Linked DNA regions of Homo sapiens. The protein of the gene in region 4 purifies or fractionates together with the protein of the main gene of each other region. This does not show direct contact. Each region holds a gene or a part of one and is shown on either strand. Other genes may lie near its edges.

Region 1 (4,555 bases), on a different chromosome or scaffold from region 4:
AGGTGGGCACCCCTGGAACCAAGGACCCTAGGGCCCTGCTGCTGGACGCACTGAGGTCCCCAGGGCTGAGGGCACTGGAGGCTGGGACGGCTGTCGAACTTCTGGATGTTTTCTTGGGCCTGGAGACTGATGGTGAAGAGCTAGCTGGGGCGATAGCTGCCGGGAACCCTGGAGCGCCTCTCCGTGAACGGGCAGCTGAGCTCCGGGAGGCCCTAGAGCAGGGGCCACGGGGACTGGCCCTTCGGCTCTGGCCAAAGCTGCAGGTGGTGGTGACTCTGGATGCAGGAGGCCAGGCCGAGGCTGTGGCTGCCCTCGGGGCCTTGTGGTGCCAAGGACTAGCCTTCTTCTCTCCTGCTTATGCTGCCTCGGGAGGTCAGTGGGACTCAAGGGCAGTGAGGTGGGGGCAACGGTCAGTGGTCACATGACAAGCAGCCATGCATTGGGCCCTACATAATCATCTCATTTAATCCTCCCCAACAAGCTGCATGCTAGGGCCAGCAGCCTCCTTTTACAAGTGAAGAAATTCAGGCTCTCTAGGTTAAGAGTCTTGTAGCTGGGTGCAGTGGCTCACGCCTGTAATCCCAGCACTTTGGGAGGCCAAGGTGGATGGATCGTTGAGGTCAGGAGTTCCAGACCAGCCTGGCCAACATGGCGAAACCCCATCTCTACTAAAAATACAAAAACTAGCGGAGTATGGTGGTGCACGCCTATAATCCCAGCTACCTGGGAGGCTGAGGCGGGAGGATTGCTTAAACCTTGGAGGCAGAAATTATAGTGAGCTGAGATCGCGCCATTGCACTCCAGCCTGGGTGACAGAGCAAGACCCTGTCTCAAAAAAAAAAAAAAAAAAAAAAGGCCGGGGCAGTGGCTCACGGGTGTAATCCCAGCACTTTGGGAGAGGCTGAGGTGGGTGGATCACCTGAAGTTAGGAGTTTAAGACCAGCCTGGCCAATGTGGTGAAACCCTGTCTCTACTAAAAATACAAAAATTAGCCAGGTGTGGTGGCAGGCGCCTGTAATCTCAGCTACTCAGGAGGCTCAGGCAGGAGAATCACTTGAACCCAGGAATCACTGAATCACTGAGCCGAGATCGCACCACTGCACTCCAGCCTAGGTGACAGAGCGAGACTCTGTCTCAAAAAAAAAAAGAGTCTTGCACAAATTCATGTGGCACCAGGATTCACTCCCAAGTCTGCCCCCTCCAGGACCACAGCACTCTGCCTCTTTCCAGTGAGGGCCTAAGAGGCAGCCCGCTGAGGCTGGGGGAGCCAGGAAGGATGTGGTGGAAGGGCAGCAGGAGGATCAGGTGCTCAGAGGATCAGGCCTGGGATCCAGGAGGGGCTATTGCCTGGCAGAAAGCGATGGCACCAGCAGACGCTGAGGAGGCTGCTTTGCTTTCACAGGGGTGCTGGGCCTAAACCTACAGCCAGAGCAGCCCCATGGGCTCTACCTTCTGCCCCCTGGGGCCCCCTTTATCGAGCTGCTCCCAGTCAAGGAAGGCACCCAGGAGGAAGCTGCCTCCACCCTCCTTTTGGCCGAGGCCCAGCAGGGCAAGGAGTATGAGCTGGTGCTGACGGACCGCGCCAGCCTCACCAGGTGATCAGCTGCACAGCCCCTGCTACCTGGGGCCCTATGGGACCGTGCTGGGGGCCTGGGGCATGAGCTCAGAAGACCTTGGGCCCGACCTCACTCCCACTTGCACCCCATCAGGTGCCGCCTGGGTGATGTGGTGCGAGTGGTTGGTGCCTACAATCAGTGTCCAGTCGTCAGGTTCATCTGCAGGTAGGTGACCCCGGGGAGCTGAAGGGCCATCCTTGTGTCCTGGGCTCCACTGCCTCTCCCTTCCTCCTCTTCAGGCTGGACCAGACCCTGAGTGTGCGAGGGGAAGATATTGGTGAAGACCTGTTCTCTGAGGCCCTGGGCCGGGCAGTGGGGCAGTGGGCGGGGGCCAAGCTGCTGGACCATGGCTGTGTGGAGAGCAGCATTCTGGGTGAGCCTCCCCACCGGCTCCTGCCTACCATCCTTGAGCTACCCTTCAACTCCTACCTCCCCTGCCAGGGGACTGCTAGGAAAGAGATAAGCCTCCTTTACTACTCCTACAAAAGTCCTTCTCTGCATCTAACTCTCATCCATCCTGCTGCAGTCTCTACCCATTTTCTTTCCTGATCTGTCTCCTATTTAGGATCAAGCTCTAGGTTCCTCTCCATTTACCCCACTCCCCACCAAGAAACTCTTTTTTCCCTATGAATCTCAGAGTGGGGAAGAACAGATAGGGCAGAGGACACTAGACTTGGCAGCTGCCCATTCACCGGAAGTATGTGTGCACATGGGGTCTATTCACAGATTCCTCTGCGGGCTCTGCTCCCCACTACGAGGTGTTTGTGGCGCTGAGGGGGCTGAGGAATCTGTCAGAGGAAAATCGAGACAAGGTAAAGGAGACGAGGACAGGGTCTGACTGTAGACCCCTTCACTCTGCACACTCCCAGGGTGCCATGGAGATCAGGGCTGATGGGAAGGAGAGGGGTGGCGGAGGAGAAGCTCCCTGGGGCTCTGGGAGGGGAGGGCTAAGTCCCACAGACACACACCTGTCCACACAAAACTTCTAAACACATGTAGCCTGGGCACAGCCACACACGCCTCGTGTGCACACTCACAGTCACACACCAGCTCACTCAGGCTGTTCTGTTCCCAGCTGGACCACTGCCTTCAGGAAGCCTCTCCCCGCTACAAGTCCCTGCGGTTCTGGGGCAGCGTGGGCCCTGCCAGAGTCCACCTGGTGGGGCAGGGAGCCTTCCGAGCACTCCGGGCAGCCCTCGCTGCCTGCCCCTCCTCCCCCTTCCCCCCTGCGATGCCCCGGGTCCTTCGGCACAGGCACCTGGCCCAGTGTCTGCAGGAGAGGGTGGTGTCCTGAGTCAAGTCCTGCCCCACCGCCCAGCTCCCCCCAGAGGCCACCTCGCCCCTCCCTCTGGGACCTCTCCGGATGGGGAGTCCTTGGCCAGGGTCTCTGACTCTGTGTCACCTGACATTTGCCCATGAGAGCCGCTGGGCCTTAGAGAGGCCTTGGCCCAGCTGACCGGTTCTGAAGTATGGGCCTCCGGGGTTAGCAGATGCCAGCAGTGCCTGCCCGTGTCCCCATGTCCCGGCATGAAGGACACTGCTAGAGAGTTACCATGCACACCGATGGTTTCCTGTATCACAGCCCAAAGAGGTTCTCTGGTGGCCACAGCTGTGTGCTCAGTCAGTGCACTGGGCAAGCTAGAAGTGTTGGGGGGTTAATGTCCCCAGGAGCAGCAACCCTGAGTCAATAAGGAGCAGGACCTCAGCTTCATTGTCCTTGAGCAGGACAATTCTGAAGTGTATTCTACATAAACTCTCAGAGGATGCCCAGCAGGATGGAGTCCCAGTTGCCCGCAGCAGTAACCCACTCATTCATGTACTTCCTGCGGGGGCTCTCCCTTCCCTCTCTTCCCCACTCCCCCGCCTTGGGCTTCCTGGGATGGCTCCCAAATAAACCTCTTGCACCCAGATTCTTGCCTCAGGGTCTGCTTTGGGGAAACGGGAGTGGACCCCGGCCCAGCCATTCCCCCACTGAGCTCCAGGACTTTCCCCCAACATTCTGCTCTGGGCCTGGCAAGGCTGCATGCGCACACAGGAGCCTTGGAGGACTCGTGGCACATCCTAGGCCAGCACCCACAAACCACTTCTGCGGTGGGGAAGGGAGAGCTATTACTTCACATCATAAGGCATCGCCGCAGGAAGCAACTCCGGAGACCATCTGGGTTCACTGTTCCATACTAATGAGGAAACGCAGCCTCCACAAGGTTGTAGAGGCTAAAATAAAAGAAAGAAAGAAACTGGGCTAGATTTTGGCTTCCTTCCCTCCCACTGCCTGGACTGGAGTTTTAAGGTTTTCCATCTTGGAGGCTGATGGGAGGGGCAGACCTCAGCTCCTCCTCAGTAGAGGCAGCACTGGATCCAGATGCCTCTGAATAGCTTCTCCATTCCATGTCCCACACCCAGGTCCTGGCTGCATACCCACCCGGCCCCCACCTCCGCCTGTCACTCCATCCTGTTAAAATCTTCCTGTGAAGCTGGGCACAGTGGCATGGGCCTATAGTCCCAGCTACTCAAGAGGCTGCGGTGGAAGGATGGTTCATGCCCAGGAGTTCAAGACCAGCCTGGGCAACACAGCGAGACCATCTCGGGAAAAAAAAACAAAAAAAAAAACCTCCCATGGTGGCCCCCATCGCCCACAGGATTAAGACCAATCAATTTGGCCTATTAGACCCTTTGACCTTGGCCCTCACCTACATGTGCAGCTACCTCTCTCCCCTTGCTTGAAAGAAGGCCTGGACTAAGGACCACGCCTCACCTCCCATCTAAGGGTTGTTAAGCACTGTCAACTCCAGGAGTTTGCTCAAGTTGTCCCTTCTATGTAATGCCCTCTATCCCGCTGCCCCTGATGTAAACTAGCTTTCATGCAAGGCCTTTGAGGACCCCCTACCAGGCCCACCCCAGGCAGAGTGACTGGCTCAGCTTTGCTCATGTGGGCAGTA
Region 2 (5,147 bases), on a different chromosome or scaffold from region 4:
GGGGACAGGTGGGCATCCTTGGCCTGCGTGCTGCTGTCAGAACCCAGAGATGTCTTGTCCACATACTGGACAGAAGGCACCAGGTTGGCAATCTCGTCTGTGGGAGACCGTCCGATGCTGCCATCCACCTGGACGCGGATGTCTGGGGAGATGGACAGCTGGTGCTGTGGGATGACCCTGTGATCCGTGCACTTTGGGTACAGGTAGGTCTTCATCTGGCCTTTCCCCTTGACATTCACGGTCCCTCTGTAGTCGAAGTCATAGCCCATCTTGCTCAAGACGCGGTAGCTCTCTTCGCTCACCTGGATGCGGCACTCCACGCCGGTGGTGTCCATCCTGCTGGCGATGTTGACGGTGTCTCCCCAGATGTCGTACAGCAGCTTGGTGGTGCCGATGACCCCGGCCGTGAGGGGCCCATGGTTGAAGCCGACGCGGAGCTTGAAGTTGAACCACAGCATGTTGTTGTTGAAGTCGTCCACCACGCGCATCATCTCCTTGGCGAACTCGAACAGGATCTGCAGGTGCTCCTGCGGGTGGCTGCCGTCCTGGGCCTGCGCGGTGTTCAGCCCTGACGCCGCCATGTACGTGGCTCCGATGGTCTTGATCTTCTCGATGCTGCTGTAGTCCGGCTTGCTTAGGAGCTCGTCAAAGTCCCCGATGAGCTCGTTGAGGACCCGGTAGCACTCCTTGCCGCCCTCGTAGTTCTCCTCGTAGAACTCGCTGAAGTTGACGATGCTGGCGAAGATCACCCCTCCGCTGTCATGGTTCTTGGAGTAGGTCTGGGACACCTTCAGCTGCTCAGCCACGTGGTAGGGGATGATGTTCCTCAGCAGCCAGTCTGCCTGGTCCCGCATGCTCTGGATCTTGGTGCGGTGAAGATCCGCTTCCACGTCTCCGTGGTAGTGGAGGCGGTAGCTGACTTCAAATTCGCGATTCAGGAACCAGACCAACAAGAGCAGGAGAAAGAAGACGAGAACCACCTCCTGGCCGATGAGGCTGGCGGGCCGCCGGAGGTCACGCGGCACCGAACTATTGCACGGGTTCCTCTCGGAACTGGAGAGCAAAGACACGGGAAAGGGAGAGGTTACTGCTCGGCGCTTCCAAGCTCAGAACAGCCCCGCTAGCTACGCAAAGCTTTGTTGAGTCCAGGCCTTCAACAACCTGAAGCTGTCAAGCTGCCCATTCCTGGTTTGGGCTGGCTGAAGGTATGGAGGGATAAAGACTAACTTTTGAAACTGATTGATTTCATTTTGTTAAATAGAGGTGGGGTCTCACTGTGTTGCCCAGGCTGGTCTTGCACTCCTGGGCTCAAGCAATTTTCCTGCCTTGGCCTCCCAAAGTGCTGGAATTACAGGCGTGAGCTGCTGTGCCCAGCCCTGTAACTAACATCTTTAGTAAGTGCTTGGTAATCGTTTTTCTTTTCTTTTTCTTTTTCTTTTTTTTTAGAAGTCTTTAGCTTCTTTCAAAAATCTTTTCTTTTCTCTCTCTCCTTTGTTTTTTTAGAGACATGGTTGTTGTCCAGGCTGGAGTGCAATGGCACAATCATGGCTCACTGCAGCCTTAAACTCCTGGGCTCAAACGATCCTCCTGCCCAGCCTCCTAAGTAGCTGGGATTACACGCATGTACCACCACACCTAGCTAATTAAAAAATTTTTTTTTTGAAGAGACAGGGTCTTGCTGGTTGCCAAGGCTGGTCTTAAACTCGTAACTTCAAGCCATCCTCCCACCTTGGCCTTCCAAAGTGCTGGGATTACAGGCTTGAACTGTGCTTGGCCTAACATCTTTTTTTTTTTTTTTTTTTAAGATTGAGTCTTGCTCTGTTGCCCAGGCTAGAGTGCAGTGGTGCGATCTTGGCTCACTGCACCCTCTGCTTCCTGAGTTCAAGTGATCCTCCTGCCTCAGCCTCCTGAATAGCTGGGACTATAGGTGTGTGCCACCATGCCTGGCTAATTTTTGTATTTTTAGTAGAGACAGGGTTTCATCATGTTGGCCAGGCTGGTCTCAAACTCCTGATCTCAAAGTGATCAGCTTGCCTTAAAGTGCTGGGATTACAGGTGTGAGCCACTGCACCCGGCTTTTTGCTGAATGAACTTTTTGAAAGTAAGTTGCTGACATGGCACTTCAGCTCTAAATATTTCAGCATGTATCTCCTAAGAATAAGGATATTTCCCTATGTAACTACAATATCATCATCATACCCAAGAAATTTAACATTCTCTGATATATTTGGTTCTTAGATTTCTTTTTTTTTGAGACGGAGTTTTGCTCTTGTTGCTGGTGAGATCTTGGCTCACTACAACCTCCGCCTCCCGGGTTCAAGTGATTCTCCTGCCTCAGCCTCCCCAGTAGCTGGGTTCACAGACATGTGCCACCACACCCAGCTAATTTTGTATTTTTAGTAGAGACGGGGTTTCTCCATGTTGGTCAGGCTTGTCTCAAACTCCCGACCTCAGGTGATCCGCCCACCTCAGCCTCCCAAAGTGCTGGGATTACAGGTGTGAGCCACCGCGCCTGGCCTTGGTTCTTAGATTTCTAATCCAATAAACTTATCATTTTACAAATAGCTTTTATGAGTTCTATACTCTCTACCTGTATAAAAAAGTTTGACAAGACGCCATCTCCCCTGATTCTGGGTTAGTTCTTTTTGCCGAAATCACTCAGGACAATGCTAACATCTGAACCAGTGCCATTATTTTCTCATGGCTGTGCAGTGTTCCAGCACTCGGAAATTCTGTAATTTAGCCAGATTCCCCCTGATGGAACTGGGCCCGAGTCTGTCTTTTCTTACCACAAACAGTGTCACAGGGAATATTCCCCTACCCCTATCTTTGTGCGTATGGAAGTGCTGAGTCATTTTAAATATTGCACATTTAGAATTTCCTTAGAAATTTCCAAATTGCCCTTCTAAACAAGGCTGAACCAGTTTCTGCTTTTTTTTTTCTTTTTTTTGAGAAGGAGTCTCGCTTTGTTGCCCAGGTTAAAGTGCAGTGGCGTGATCTCGCCTCACCACAAACTCCGCCTCCTGGGTTCAAGCAATTCTCCTGCTTCAGCCTTCTGTGTAGCTCGGACTACAGGTGCACGCCACCATGCCCAGATTATTTTTGTACTTTTACTAGAGACAGGTTGGTCTCAAACTCGTGACCTCGTGATCCACCCGCCTCGGCCTCCCAAAGTGCTGGGATCACAGGCGTGAGCCACCGCGCCCAGTCTCTGCTCCCTTTGATAACTGAGCCTGCTTTCAGCGGGGCTGTCTCCACTTCAGTGGCACTGATGGAGACAGCCATGGTCAGGGGGCTGCAGATGAGTGGTGAGTAGCACAATTTCTTTTTTTCTTTTTCTTTTTTCTTTTTTGAGACAGAGTCTCACTCTCTAGCCCGGGCTGGCATGCAGTGGTGTGATCTCAGCTCACTGCAACCTCCACCTCCTGGGCTCAACGATTCTTGCGGCCCAGCCTCCTGAGTAGTGTGCGCCACCAGGCCCAGCTAATTTTTGTATTTTTTTTTTGGTAGAAACGGGGTTTCACCATGTTGGCTGGGCTGGTCTCAAACTCCTGACCTAAAGTGATCTGCCCGCCTCGACCTCCCAAAGTGCTGGGATTACAGGTGTGAGCCACCACACCTGGCTGAGTAGCACAATTTCTTAAAGTTTGTTTGAAATATATATATATATATATATATATATATATATATATATATGTATTTTTTTTTTTTTTTAAGAAGAGACAGGGTCTGTCTCTGTCATCCAAGCTGGACTGCAGTGGTGCGATCCTAGCTCACTGCAGCTTTGACCTCCCAGGCTAAAGCGATCCTCCCGCCTCAGCCTCCAGATTAGCTGGGACTACAGGCACACACCACCACACCTGGCTAATTTTTTGAACTTTTTGTAGAGATGAGGTCTTACTATGTTGCCCAGGCTGGTCTCAAACTCCTGGGTTCAAACTGTTCTGCTTCTGCCTCCCCAGTGTGCTGGAATACATTTTTTCCCATTTAAAAATACTACATACTCATCATAGAAAATGTAGAAAAAAATAGACAAAAAAGATTTGTCCATCGTCCTGCCATCCAGAGGCAATCACTATTAACATTTGTTGAACTGCATTCTAGTCTTTTTCTTTTTTACAACACCGTGACTGTTCTGTTCATGTAAATGCTGTACCCTGATGCATTCCTCCCGCGCACAGAGTAGGCCAGTTGATTTGATGCAATAATGGGCTTGGTCACTATATACTTATATATGCGACTGGCGGATCCACAGTTTAGACAGCTCCATCACACTGGAAAGCTCAATTCTTTTTCTTTTAGAGACAGGGTCTCGCCATCTTGCCCAGGCTGGTCTTGAACTCCTGAGCTCAACCAATCTGCCTGCCTTAGCCTCCCCAAGTGCTGGGATTACAGGGATGAGCCACCACGCCTGGCCAAAACTCAATTCTTCTTTTTTCTTTCTTGCTCTGTTGCCCTGGCTGGAGTGCAATGGCGCGACCTTGGCTCACTGCAACCTCCGCTTCCAGGTTCAAGTGATTCTCTTGCCTCAGCCTCCCGAGTAGCTGGGACTACAGGTGTGCGCCACCATACTTGGCTAATTTTTGTATTTTTTAGTAGAGACAGGGTTTCACCATGTTGACCAGGTTGGTCTGGAACTCCTGACCTCAGGTGATCCACCCGCCTTGGCCTCCCAAAGTGCTGGGATTACAGGCACGAGCCACCATGCCCGGCCAAAAGCTCAGTCCTTTAATCAAAGTGTCTAATAAGTTTCACTAACTGTTCTTGGGATATTAAAAAACAATGAGCTTGACCTGTGTGGCCATCACGGCCCTCTGCGAAGCACAACCGCCAAAAGCCCTGGCCGTGGGTGGAACAGAACCCCTGGGCCCCATCCTGGCTGGACCGCGGGGGAGTTTCAGAATCTTGGGTAAGCCATGCCATCTTTCTGGGTCTCAGTTTCCTCGCTTGTAAGCTGTGAAGATGGACTGGAGCATGGCTACGTCCCTTCCAGCCTAAGGTTCCGTGCAGGAAAGGCCTGAGGCTGCCATCCTTGGAAAGACCTGCCTGCAAAGGTGGTGGCTGGCACCAGGGAGCTGGGATTTGGGGAGGGTTCCTGCCATTCCTTGATAAGAGCGGCTCACACTGCCTACACTGTCTAAATAAGG
Region 3 (5,147 bases), on a different chromosome or scaffold from region 4:
TAAATAACATACATAAAATAGTTTCAGTACATTTCAAAAAAATTATAGAGTATGTTTTCTGACAACAAAATTCATAGACTAGTAACAATAAGATATATAGGAAAATCTCAAACTTTTTGACATCAAACAACGCACTTTTATATTATCCATGAATCAAAGAAGAAATCACAGTTGACAAATATTTAGAAAAATAATAAAATCACAACACAAAAATGTGTGAGGTGCAGCTAAAGCAGTGTATTTAAGAAAATTTATACCTTTAAGTGCTTGTAATTAGCAAAAATAGTTTAAAATCAATGATCTAATTTTTCCACTTCGAAAAGCTAGAAAAAGTGGAGTAAATGAAACACAAAGCAAATGGAAGGAAATAATAAAGATTAGAAATCAATGAAATATAAGCAGAGAATTTAAGAAGACAAAAGTTGCTCCTTTGAAAATGTTAATAAAATCCATAGTTGGTAAGAAAACCCTTAATTGACTAACACACAAACAGGGCTCTAGTCCCTTTTTGACACATTTTAGAACTGATATGCTACGTAATTTAGAATTTTAGGTTTCAGAAGATTCTGTCCTGCACATAATGTATAACATATACTATCCCCAGTGAATCCTGGGTAGCATTCTGTAATCAAATACATTAATATTTCATTAGTAAAATATATATTCACTTTTAGAAAGATAAATAGACTATAAATAGCCTCAAATCACTTCAGGTCAGGTTTTGGTGGCAAAAAATTCCAAAATAAGTAAATTGTATTTTAGAGTTTTTTTAAATGTTCTGCATTGTAACAAGCTATTATGAATTAGTAATAAATTGATTACTTCTTTTCACAGATAGGTCTTCTAAGTCCCTGAACAAATGACAGTGCCCCATTTATAAGTCCTAAGGGATGACTTTTTTAGCCTAGATCACAAGATGGTTTTTATTCTTCCTGCACCTTCCATGAGGCTAGAGAGTATTTAGTAAATACAATAAACTTTATAATGACCTTTGTCTGGATTTTCAAAGAAAATTGGGTTCTTGGCAAAAGAGGACAGAAATTTCAGAAAAATAAGCCTATTCTCATCAAGCATATAATTCTGTGGTAAAATAACAAAATCATCAAATTTCCAAATGCGCAATAGTAAATACTGATATACACAAATCTGAAAATATCTTTGGAATTCTATACAACCAGCATTTATACAATTAAACTTCCGTTTTTGTCAGACACATTCCACACAGAATATATGTTAACAACCAGCATTTATACACTTAATTTTAAACTTCCGTTTTTGTCAGACACATTCCACACAGAATATATGTTAATGATTCAACAAAAGGCATAAATCATATTTCTAAAATTAATTTTATGTCTTATTTAAAATAACCTCAGCAGAAAATTTATTGGCCTAATTCTCTAAACATTATCTCCAGCTCTAGGGAAATTTAATTCTACAAACTTAAGTCTCAAGAAGACCATAAAAGGAATAACAGTAACAGAACAGTATCAATAATAATAAATGTAGAAGTTTCCTTGAAAGCCCATGCAATACTCCTATAGGTGCTAATTGGAGCCATGCATGCATTAAATCAGATATATGTACTTACTATTACTGCTACTGCTGTCATTCCTAAGGGAGCTGGCTGCAACAGGGGGTAACATAAATGGTTTTGTGACACTGACTCTGGAATCTAAATAGAAAGCAATAATGTGTCAGTGTTATATGGTGATTTGTATGAGTTATAGAGTCCCTGAAAGGTGAAGTGCAATACCAGATTACTTGCCAGGTCTGCTTCCCAAATCTAGAGTATTCAGATCCTATTTATTTCATACTGGGTCCTGCTATTCTATTTTACTAAGAAATCCACCATTATCACCTTGTAGAACAAATACTTATTGAATAAATATGTTAATAAATACAAATAATGACACATTGATGGTAATTTCTCATTAAAAAAAGAAAGCAATGAATCCAGGTTTGTATTATAGGGACCCAGTGAAGGGAAAAAAGAGTCTTAATACAGAGTAACTGGGGAGGATCAGAATTTGTGACTTAGAGTTAGATCCTTAAGAAAAAATTTGAGAAGGACCATTAAGTAGACTGGAGGTACAGAATAATATAATTGTAATTACTGGCAAATATTAGATGAGAAAAGGTATGAGTGGCCATCTCATATATTGTTTACTCACAAACAGCTCACTAATTTGAAACTGATGAATATTGCTTTGGGTTAGAAACCCACAAATCTACAATCATTAGTTTCTTCTGTGCTATTGATATCTGCTTTTTTATTAGACGTACATGCATGTATCTTGCTACAGCTTAACACAGAGGTAGATTCTTACTACATAGGGAAGATTTAAGTTTGTTGTTTACATTTGAACTGGAAATGCTTACATGTCTTACCTTTCTCAGGACTTAATGTTGAAGAAACCACACAATCACTAGTTTCAGATGCCACTACAAAGTCCTTGAAGGCATCAATGGATCTATTAAAAATTCTAAAGAATTCTTCAGGAGTAAAGAGCCTGGGTTCTGGGCTCTTGAATGATTTTTTTAGATCCTAGAAGAAAAAATAGGATTACATTTTTCAAATAGTCTTCAGACTTAACTGAGGTGAAGATAATGGACTATAAATATGTCTCTCAAAGATTCAAGTATTTAGACTCTTACAACTAGCACTTTTAGATGGCTGTTTTAACGTATGTAATTCAGATTGGTAATGCAGGGTAGTGATCCCAGTGGGATCACAAGTTGAATCTGGGGCAGTGAACACAATGTCATGGCAAAAAATAAAATAAAATAAATAACCTTAAAAACAAGCTGGGGATATTTTTCTTTAGAGATGCTCATTAAAAACATGAGGGTTTATTTTTAAAAGACCCCTCCATTACAAGAACTTCCAGTCTTTAGAAAAAAAAAAAAAAAACCACACCATAATGCATGCTCTAATATCCAAAAATTAGAAAGTCAGATGATACTAAATATTGGCAAGGGAACTCTTACATACTGCTGAGATAATGTAAGTTGGTACATTTGATATTATCCAGTAAAGTTAGACATGTGACCATCCTGTGACTCAGAAATTCCATTCTCAGGTAAATAACCTACTGAAACTATTGCACATATATACCATCAGACATATAAAAAAGTTTTTTTGCAGCAATATCTGTATCACTTATGTCAATCCAGACAGAGTGGCTTAATAACTAGTGATATATTGAATTAGTGGAGTTCAATTCAAGAGAAGGTTAACTACAGCTATATGCTTTAAAGTGGATACATCTTCTAAACCTAAAGCTGAGTGAAAGAGGCAAGTCCCAAAATAATAAAAATGGTATGATTAATTGATATAAAATTAATATAAAATTCCCCAAAGCAAATCAAAGCTATGTTGTAGGGATACATAATGGATTATAAAGAAAAGTAGGTAACCAAAATAAACAACTATCTGTTACTTACTATGGACTATTCTAAGTGCTTTATATACAGTAACTCAATCTCCAAAACAACTGAGAAATATAATTGGTAATCTCCTGGGTTCCCACCAAAGTGCCATGATTAGTAAATGCACATTCTTTGTTGTTTGCAGTGTTCTTCCCAACATCACCATTGACCTAACTCATTTACCTAACTCATCTTTAAGGCTCTAATGCACATGTTATTTCCTTTGTGACACCTTGTGTGATGCACTCTACTTTTTGTGATCTCTACTTCTTTTGAATGCCATTGGCACACTATATGCAGTAGTAATATGAAAGAGTGGTTAACACCACATTCTGACTTTGGAAATTAGAAAATAATACAAAGATTAAAGGTAGTGATTGGATTATTAGTATGGTAAGAATTATAAGATAGGATAGTACAAATGGGATTGAAGTTGGGTCTTACAGAATAGCTGGAATTTAGATGGGACACAGGAAAAAGCATTTAGGTATTAAGGTACAGAATCCTGCTTAAAACTTTGAATTTAAACTTACATAAGTCTCCTAAGCTAATCTTTGGCCATTTGAACTGTATACCAAATCAGGTCTCCTAAGCATGATTTTGCTATAGACACAGTGTGATGAAAAAACATCAAATTTTATTAATATTTATTTTGCTAGGTAGGGTGTTAAAGTACTCATGGCAAATAACCTAACGTCGACCCTGTTAGATGAATTCTGGCATTGCCCCCATTTTAAAGATAAAGAAAGTGAGGTACAAAGAAGTTACGCTCACAGAACTCATTAGCGACAGAGCCAGAATTTAAACTCCAATATCTCACTCTTATTTTCTGGAGTACATTGCCTATTCCATATGTCATGCCCATATCCTGAAGTTGGTGATGATCAGTTATCCAATGACTTTGAGGAGCCAAAATGTATTCCTTTGCTGTGACCTATGGGGTGATTACATTATGCATAAAAGGATATGTGTTTATTACAGACAATTTTCCATTTAAATGAACACTTGTAACTTAATAGAAAGGTTTCAAGGACTTCACTTATGAAGAATAAAGATAAAGGCAGGACTGATTTTGCATTGTAATGTAAATAAGTTTTATTTTTGTATTAGATGACAACATTTAAGTTTGAATGTGCACTTCAGTATTGCAGTATAACTGCAAATACTTGTTTTCTTTGCTCATCTGAACAAGATTTTTAAATTTGAAGTTTATACAATCAAAATATCATAAATAAAGGTGCCTCATTTTCCCCAACAGCACCAAGAAGCATGGGTTTTTAGAGAAGCGTAATGAAAAATAATCCCAATGAACACAAAGTTACCTTAGATGAGTTTTCTTTCACGCACTCCACAAGGTCATCCACTATATTCACAAGTTTGTCTATGATGGAATAATTACTCAAGCCTTCAGAAATATTTGAAAACTTGTCCAGAAGATCAGTCAAGCTGTCTGACAATTGTACTACCATCTCGCTTATCCAACAATGACTTGGCTGCAAGATATGAAAAAAGAGACAAAACAGCTATTTTAATAAGTAAGTGCCATAAAACTCGGAGTACTCTTCAAAGCTATCGTTTTAGTTACTCAAGTGATTCTCCTGCCTCAGCCTCTCGAGTAGCTCAGATTACAAGTGCCTGCCACCATGCCTGGCTACTTTTTTATTTTTAGTAGAGAGGAAGTTTCACCATGTTGGCCAGGCTGTCTCAAACTTCCT
Region 4 (5,147 bases):
TCCACCCCACCCAGCCTCCATGTATCCAGAACCCTGTGTCGGGACAGTGCACTGGCCTCAAGGCGCTCCCTATGCAGGGGGCTCCAATCAGAGTGGAAGGCAGGATGGTTTCTGGGGAAGCACCTGATCCTGAGAGGCCCACACCCTACCTCCCCTCAGCCCCTTCTGCATGGAAAGGGGCACTTACAACTGCAGCCTAAAATGCCACCTGTTTCAAGGGCCCTTGGAAGGGGCTCAGTAAATGGTCTTTGGGCTGCAGTTGGCTCCCAGGGGCCCATGCAAGAGGCTTTAGCCTCTCCCCTCCGCAACCAGCAAAGATGGGACAGAAAACTTCTCACTGCCCCTCAATGCTGCCGGGCCCATCTCTCTCCCCAGATAGCAGAGCAGCTGACAGAGGGGGCTTGGCCAGCCCCACTCACCTTCATGATGATGTAGAAGGCGAAGTAAAGGAGCAGGTTGCAGATGCCAATGGCCAACAAGTAGGAAGCGAAATCATTGGGGCGCATGATAAGCCCATAGGCAGCCCTGGCAAGAGGGATGAAGGGTGGTGAAGCAGGAAGCCCAAGGGCAAGGAAGTGCTCTTCCTGCCCTGCCTAGGCATGTTTTATTATGATGTTGGGCTGTGTTCAGAAGCCCACAGAAGATTCTAGAAGCCCAGATGCCAAGAGAGAGAAGAGAGGCCAAGATCTCTCTTAGCCCCCATGTCTTATGCCCAACATTTGGAAGTTGTCCTTAGCCCCCAAGGCAGCCAGTGGCTGACCGAGTCCCCAGCTGTCCACCCAACCAGGCCACTACTGCTGACCATACTCACAGCGACCAGTTGATGACGTTGCCCATGACCAGCAGCACCATGCGGTCCTGGAGGGAAGCAGGGACACAGGGACTGAGGGCAGGGGCAGGGAGGGTGGTGGAAGAAGGCCCAGCCAGCTGGTCCCCACTCTCCCCTGGGTCCTCAGCCCAGCCCCACTCCCCCATCAGAGGGAAGAAAGGAGATGTGGAGAATGGAGCAGGGGAACCAGGCAGGTACCACGTAGAGCGGCCCGCTGCACTGCCGGATGCAGTCTGTGTAGAGCACGTGGAGGATGCGGCGGAAGATCCCCGAGTCTGCGAAGAGAAGGGAGTGGTGCTGACAGGCACGGGGCACCCTCCTTTGCTGGACCCCTGGGATGTGCCAGCTGAGGAGCCCAGGCCTGATCTAATTCCTCACCCAGTGACTCCAGGGCCCCCAAGACAGAACCTGAGCGTCTCCCGTGCGTCCGGGTTCCCAAGGCCCCCCAGACCCCTCCCCCAGGCCCTGCCCCGGGCGTGCCCTTACCCAGTTTCCACCGGCCCATGTAATAGAGCTGCGTGCTGAGGAGCAGGGTGGCGATGATGTGAATGATGGAGAAGACGATCCAGAACGCCGTGTTCCCTTTGCCAAAGACCTGTCGGGAGGCCACCAAGGGCAGCGGTGAGGGTGGAGAGGGAAGTGGCTCGGATGGCCCACCCTTCCTGGGGCTGGCTGCTCAGCCAGGCTGGGACTCTGAGAGGGGCCCAGGAAGGCATCTCAGGGAAGGAGCAGGAATCTCTCATGCAGGAGGTGGCGGAGGGTGTGCACTACGTGTCTGAACGCACGTGCACCTTTCCTATCATACAGGCTGAGCAGAGCAGGTCAGGCCCTCACCACGCCCAGCACAGAGAAGAAGATGACAATGGCCAGGCAGGCGTAGGCACTGTAGGCGCTGGCGTTGATGTCCGGGTGCCGCTTCTGGTAGAGCTTCAGCATGCAGAGTCCGGCGATCATGTACATGAACGATGTGTCTAGGATGAGGGACACGGAAGGGAGCTGCAGAAATGGCCACCAAGCCCCAGCAGAGAACTCCTGGCCCCAACAATCCCAGAGGAAGAGAGAGCCCTGGTGCCCCACCACGGCCATGGTGTGAGCTGGTGGCAGGGTGGCACTTGAACTTCAGTTCCTTAGTTGTACCTGCCACACCACACTGCCACCCCACTGGCTGTCACCCAGAGTCTGACATCTCCTGAAAACAGGGACAACTTGGTCTGTGTCTTAGTCTGTGAGCACCCTGAGATCAGGGACTCCCTTTTATTTTTTTGGAGACGGAGTCTCACTCTGTCGCCCAGGCTGGCGTGCAATGGTGGGATCTCGGCTCACTGCAACCTCCGCTTCCTGGGCTCAAGCAATTCTCCTGCCTCAGCCCCCTGAGTAGCTGAGATTACAGGCATGCACCACCACACCCAGCTAATCTTTGCATTTTTAGTAGAGATGGGGTTTCACCATGTTGGCCCGGCTGATCTCAAACTCCCCACCTTGGGCGATCCCCCCGCCTCAGCCTCCCAAAGTGCTAGGATTACAGGCATGAGCCACAGTGCCCAGCCAGGGCCCCCTTCTTTTTTTTTTTTTTGAGACGGAGTCTCGCTCTGTTGCCCAGGCTAGAGCGCAGGGCGTGATCTTGGCTCATTGCAAACTCTGCCTCCCGGATTCATGCCATTCTCCTGCCTCAGCCTCCCGAGCAGCTGGGACTACAGGCGCCTGCCACTGTGCCCGGCTAATTTTTTGTATTTTTAGTAGAGACGGGGTTTCACCATGTTAGCCAGGATGGTCTGGAGCTCCTGACCTCGTGATCCATCTGCCTCGGCCTCCCAAAGTGCTGGGATTACAGGCGTGAGCCACTGCACCCGGCCAGGGACCCCTTCTTAATTATACTGTTTTCTTCACTGCGGCACATGCCTTTACATAGGAATAGCTTGACAGATGAATGAAGCAGCATCTAGGTGCCCATGTTCCATAGGCTAGGATGTGTGCACACCCAGGCACGCCAGCCTTGGAGTTTCCTACAGGGGTGTCTTAGCGATCCCTGTGGGTGACTTGGGGATAGTGAAGGACTCAGGCAGGTCCCTGCTGTAGGTTGAGCCAGAAAAGAAGGACGCCCCACTCACCAAACTGGAAATTGGTATAGTTGGGGCACACATGATAGCAAGCACTGAGCAGCCCCTCCATCATCAGGGCTGTGCCCATGGCGTAGAAAAGCCCAAAGTGTTTGGGGATCCCACATTCCTGTTGGGGAGAGAGAGAAGGGAAGGGAGGGAGGAAGTGAGGCAGGAAGGGAAGAAGGGACCCAAAAGAGGGACCCTAAGAGGAGTGGAAGAGGAAAAGGGGTGGGGTATGTGTCGAGTGTGGGTGTGCAGGGGTGGGCTGGCCTGGGCAGGCTGGCAAGGGAGGGCAGGGCAGGGTGGGGCAGGCTGGGCTGGATAGGGTGGGCCAGACAGAACTGGGGAGGGGAGAGCTGGGGAAGGCAGGGCCAGGCCTGCCCAAAAGGGTGTCCTGGAGCCAAGGCTTGAGGTCTGTGCTGGAGCTGAGGCTGCGGCAGGCAGGCAGGTGCTCCCTTACCAGGGCACAGAGGTCATTGCGCAGCAGGGCCCGGTTGTGGTTGATCTCCCGTTGCAGGATGATGAGCAGGAAAAGCAGCCCCAGCAGGATGTACCCCAGGTTGCTGAGGATGTTGTTGAAGGCGCTAGAAGGGGCAACACAAGGCAGACTGCTTGGGACTCACACCCAGGCCTCTTCCCTAGCCCACGTGGGCATTGCAAAGCCCCAGGCCCTGCCCCATTTCACCCTTGGCCTGGACAAGGGGCCTCCCAGCATGACCCCCACCTGAGATTGCCCAGTGGGTGGGCGCAGAGGAAGTTGTAGTAGCAGATGTCCTGATTCCCTGTGACATTCACCACCTGTAGCAGGAGCAGGGACAGGGAGTGGGTCTGTCGTCACGCCCAACTCAGCCCACGCCCCGCCATCCGGGCCCCTTTGGCAAAAAACAGCAAGTGCCACCACAGCTAGCAGGTGGGAATACACAGCACCGCAGGCACGTGTTCCTTCTGAGAACATGGATGCCATGCAGCACAGTCGCTGTCCCCTCTCATTAGGCGTGGCTGAAAACCCTGAGGCATGACCGTGATGGAAGTTCTTGCCCCACGGGACAGAGAAAAGGGAAGGGAAACTGATGCTTACAAAGCCCCAGGACTTTGGTTTCATAATCCGCACAAGAAACCAGGGAGGGGCTATCTTTAGTGCGGGCTGCTCCCATTTTGCAGATGAAGAAACTGACACTCAGGGTTGGGGGGGTTATGTGATTTGCCCTGGGTCACTCGGCTGGGAAGGCAGAGCTGGGATCTGAACCCAGGTCCTGTGATGGAACACCAGGGCCCCAGGCTGGGAGGCTCTGCACTTTGGGGCGGTGTCCTAGGCTGTCGGAAAGGTGAACCTGCCCTGCCCTCTCACCGTCTGGTAGGTGATCACCAGCTGCACCACAGGAAGGGCATAGAAGACAGCAATGGTGGCAATGTTCCTGCGGAGCAGGAGGGCGGCAGTGAGGTGGGTGGCACCCAAGGCTGCCACACACCCACCAACAGCAGAGCCCCAGACACTCAGCCCACTCACCAGAAGTAGATCTGGTACTTTTTCCGCAGAACACGCTTGTCCTTCCGTGCCAGGTCAGCCACATAGAGGTATTGCTGGGGAGAAGCTGGAATCAGCCCCACTTACTGCTACTTGGGAGAAGCCCCCTCCCCCAGGTTAGAGGTGGACAAGAGGGGCCTCCCTCACACAGGGCCGAATTCAGGGGGGCAGGGTTCAAGGACATCCCACTGCTGCGGCCGCTTAGACCAAGAGGGTTTGGCCAATCAGGCCGGAAGGGGTTGGAGGTCAGGTTAGTTTCCCCGGCATCTGCCCTGCCCCAGCTGAGCCCCTTCCTTCTGCTTCCCTAAATGCCACGTCAGTGGGAACATGCTGGGGCGGGAACGCAGAATGTCCCTTTCTCAGGAAACGCCTGACCAGGCCAGGCCCACGGGTCAGACCTTGGTGCGAATGACATTCTTGTCGGAATCGATGTCGGTCAATGTGTCGTAGTCATCCTCCTCCACAGAGCTCATGGAGTCCACTCGGGGCCGAGTACCTACAGGTTCAAAGGAGCGGCCTGGAAAGGGCAGGGAGGGAGGGGTTGCACCGGTGGACACAAAACCCACAGTGGCCCTCGCCCATCTGAGGCAATTGTAACAATTATTAGGCAGTAGGGAAGAGGCAAATTGTGGGCTGGGCCTCAGAGTTGGGGTGGAAGTGGGCTCAGGAGCTGGGAGGAGACATCAGGTGCTCC

The links. Proteins that work in one complex are often made in the same cells at the same time.
Region 1: the proteins of SIDT2 (region 4) and GHDC purify together in Homo sapiens (affinity purification with mass spectrometry; one large-scale study listed by BioGRID and IntAct). This does not show direct contact.
Region 2: the proteins of SIDT2 (region 4) and ADCY9 purify together in Homo sapiens (affinity purification with mass spectrometry; one large-scale study listed by BioGRID and IntAct). This does not show direct contact.
Region 3: the proteins of SIDT2 (region 4) and KITLG purify together in Homo sapiens (affinity purification with mass spectrometry; one large-scale study listed by BioGRID and IntAct). This does not show direct contact.

The regions. Positions count from the first base shown.
Region 1 is NC_000017.11:42,188,058-42,192,612, reverse strand, and holds the end of GHDC (GH3 domain-containing protein isoform 1 precursor), read left to right. Parts: coding exon 1-372; intron 373-1,402; coding exon 1,403-1,595; intron 1,596-1,709; coding exon 1,710-1,781; intron 1,782-1,855; coding exon 1,856-1,989; intron 1,990-2,253; coding exon of another isoform or gene 2,254-2,342; coding exon 2,343-2,428; intron 2,429-2,691; coding exon 2,692-2,910; 3' UTR 2,911-3,526; downstream 3,527-4,555.
Region 2 is NC_000016.10:3,965,914-3,971,060, forward strand, and holds part of ADCY9 (adenylate cyclase type 9), read right to left. Parts: intron 1,054-5,147; coding exon 1-1,053. UniProt on the Homo sapiens protein: Adenylyl cyclase that catalyzes the formation of the signaling molecule cAMP in response to activation of G protein-coupled receptors.
Region 3 is NC_000012.12:88,513,943-88,519,089, forward strand, and holds part of KITLG (kit ligand isoform b precursor), read right to left. Parts: intron 4,926-5,147; coding exon 4,755-4,925; intron 2,549-4,754; coding exon 2,392-2,548; intron 1,676-2,391; coding exon 1,592-1,675; intron 1-1,591. UniProt on the Homo sapiens protein: Ligand for the receptor-type protein-tyrosine kinase KIT. Plays an essential role in the regulation of cell survival and proliferation, hematopoiesis, stem cell maintenance, gametogenesis, mast cell development, migration and function, and in melanogenesis.
Region 4 is NC_000011.10:117,188,531-117,193,677, reverse strand, and holds part of SIDT2 (SID1 transmembrane family member 2 precursor), read right to left. Parts: intron 4,971-5,147; coding exon 4,852-4,970; intron 4,510-4,851; coding exon 4,436-4,509; intron 4,344-4,435; coding exon 4,277-4,343; intron 3,727-4,276; coding exon 3,653-3,726; intron 3,513-3,652; coding exon 3,389-3,512; intron 3,056-3,388; coding exon 2,938-3,055; intron 1,801-2,937; coding exon 1,664-1,800; intron 1,425-1,663; coding exon 1,316-1,424; intron 1,105-1,315; coding exon 1,028-1,104; intron 859-1,027; coding exon 812-858; intron 526-811; coding exon 420-525; intron 1-419.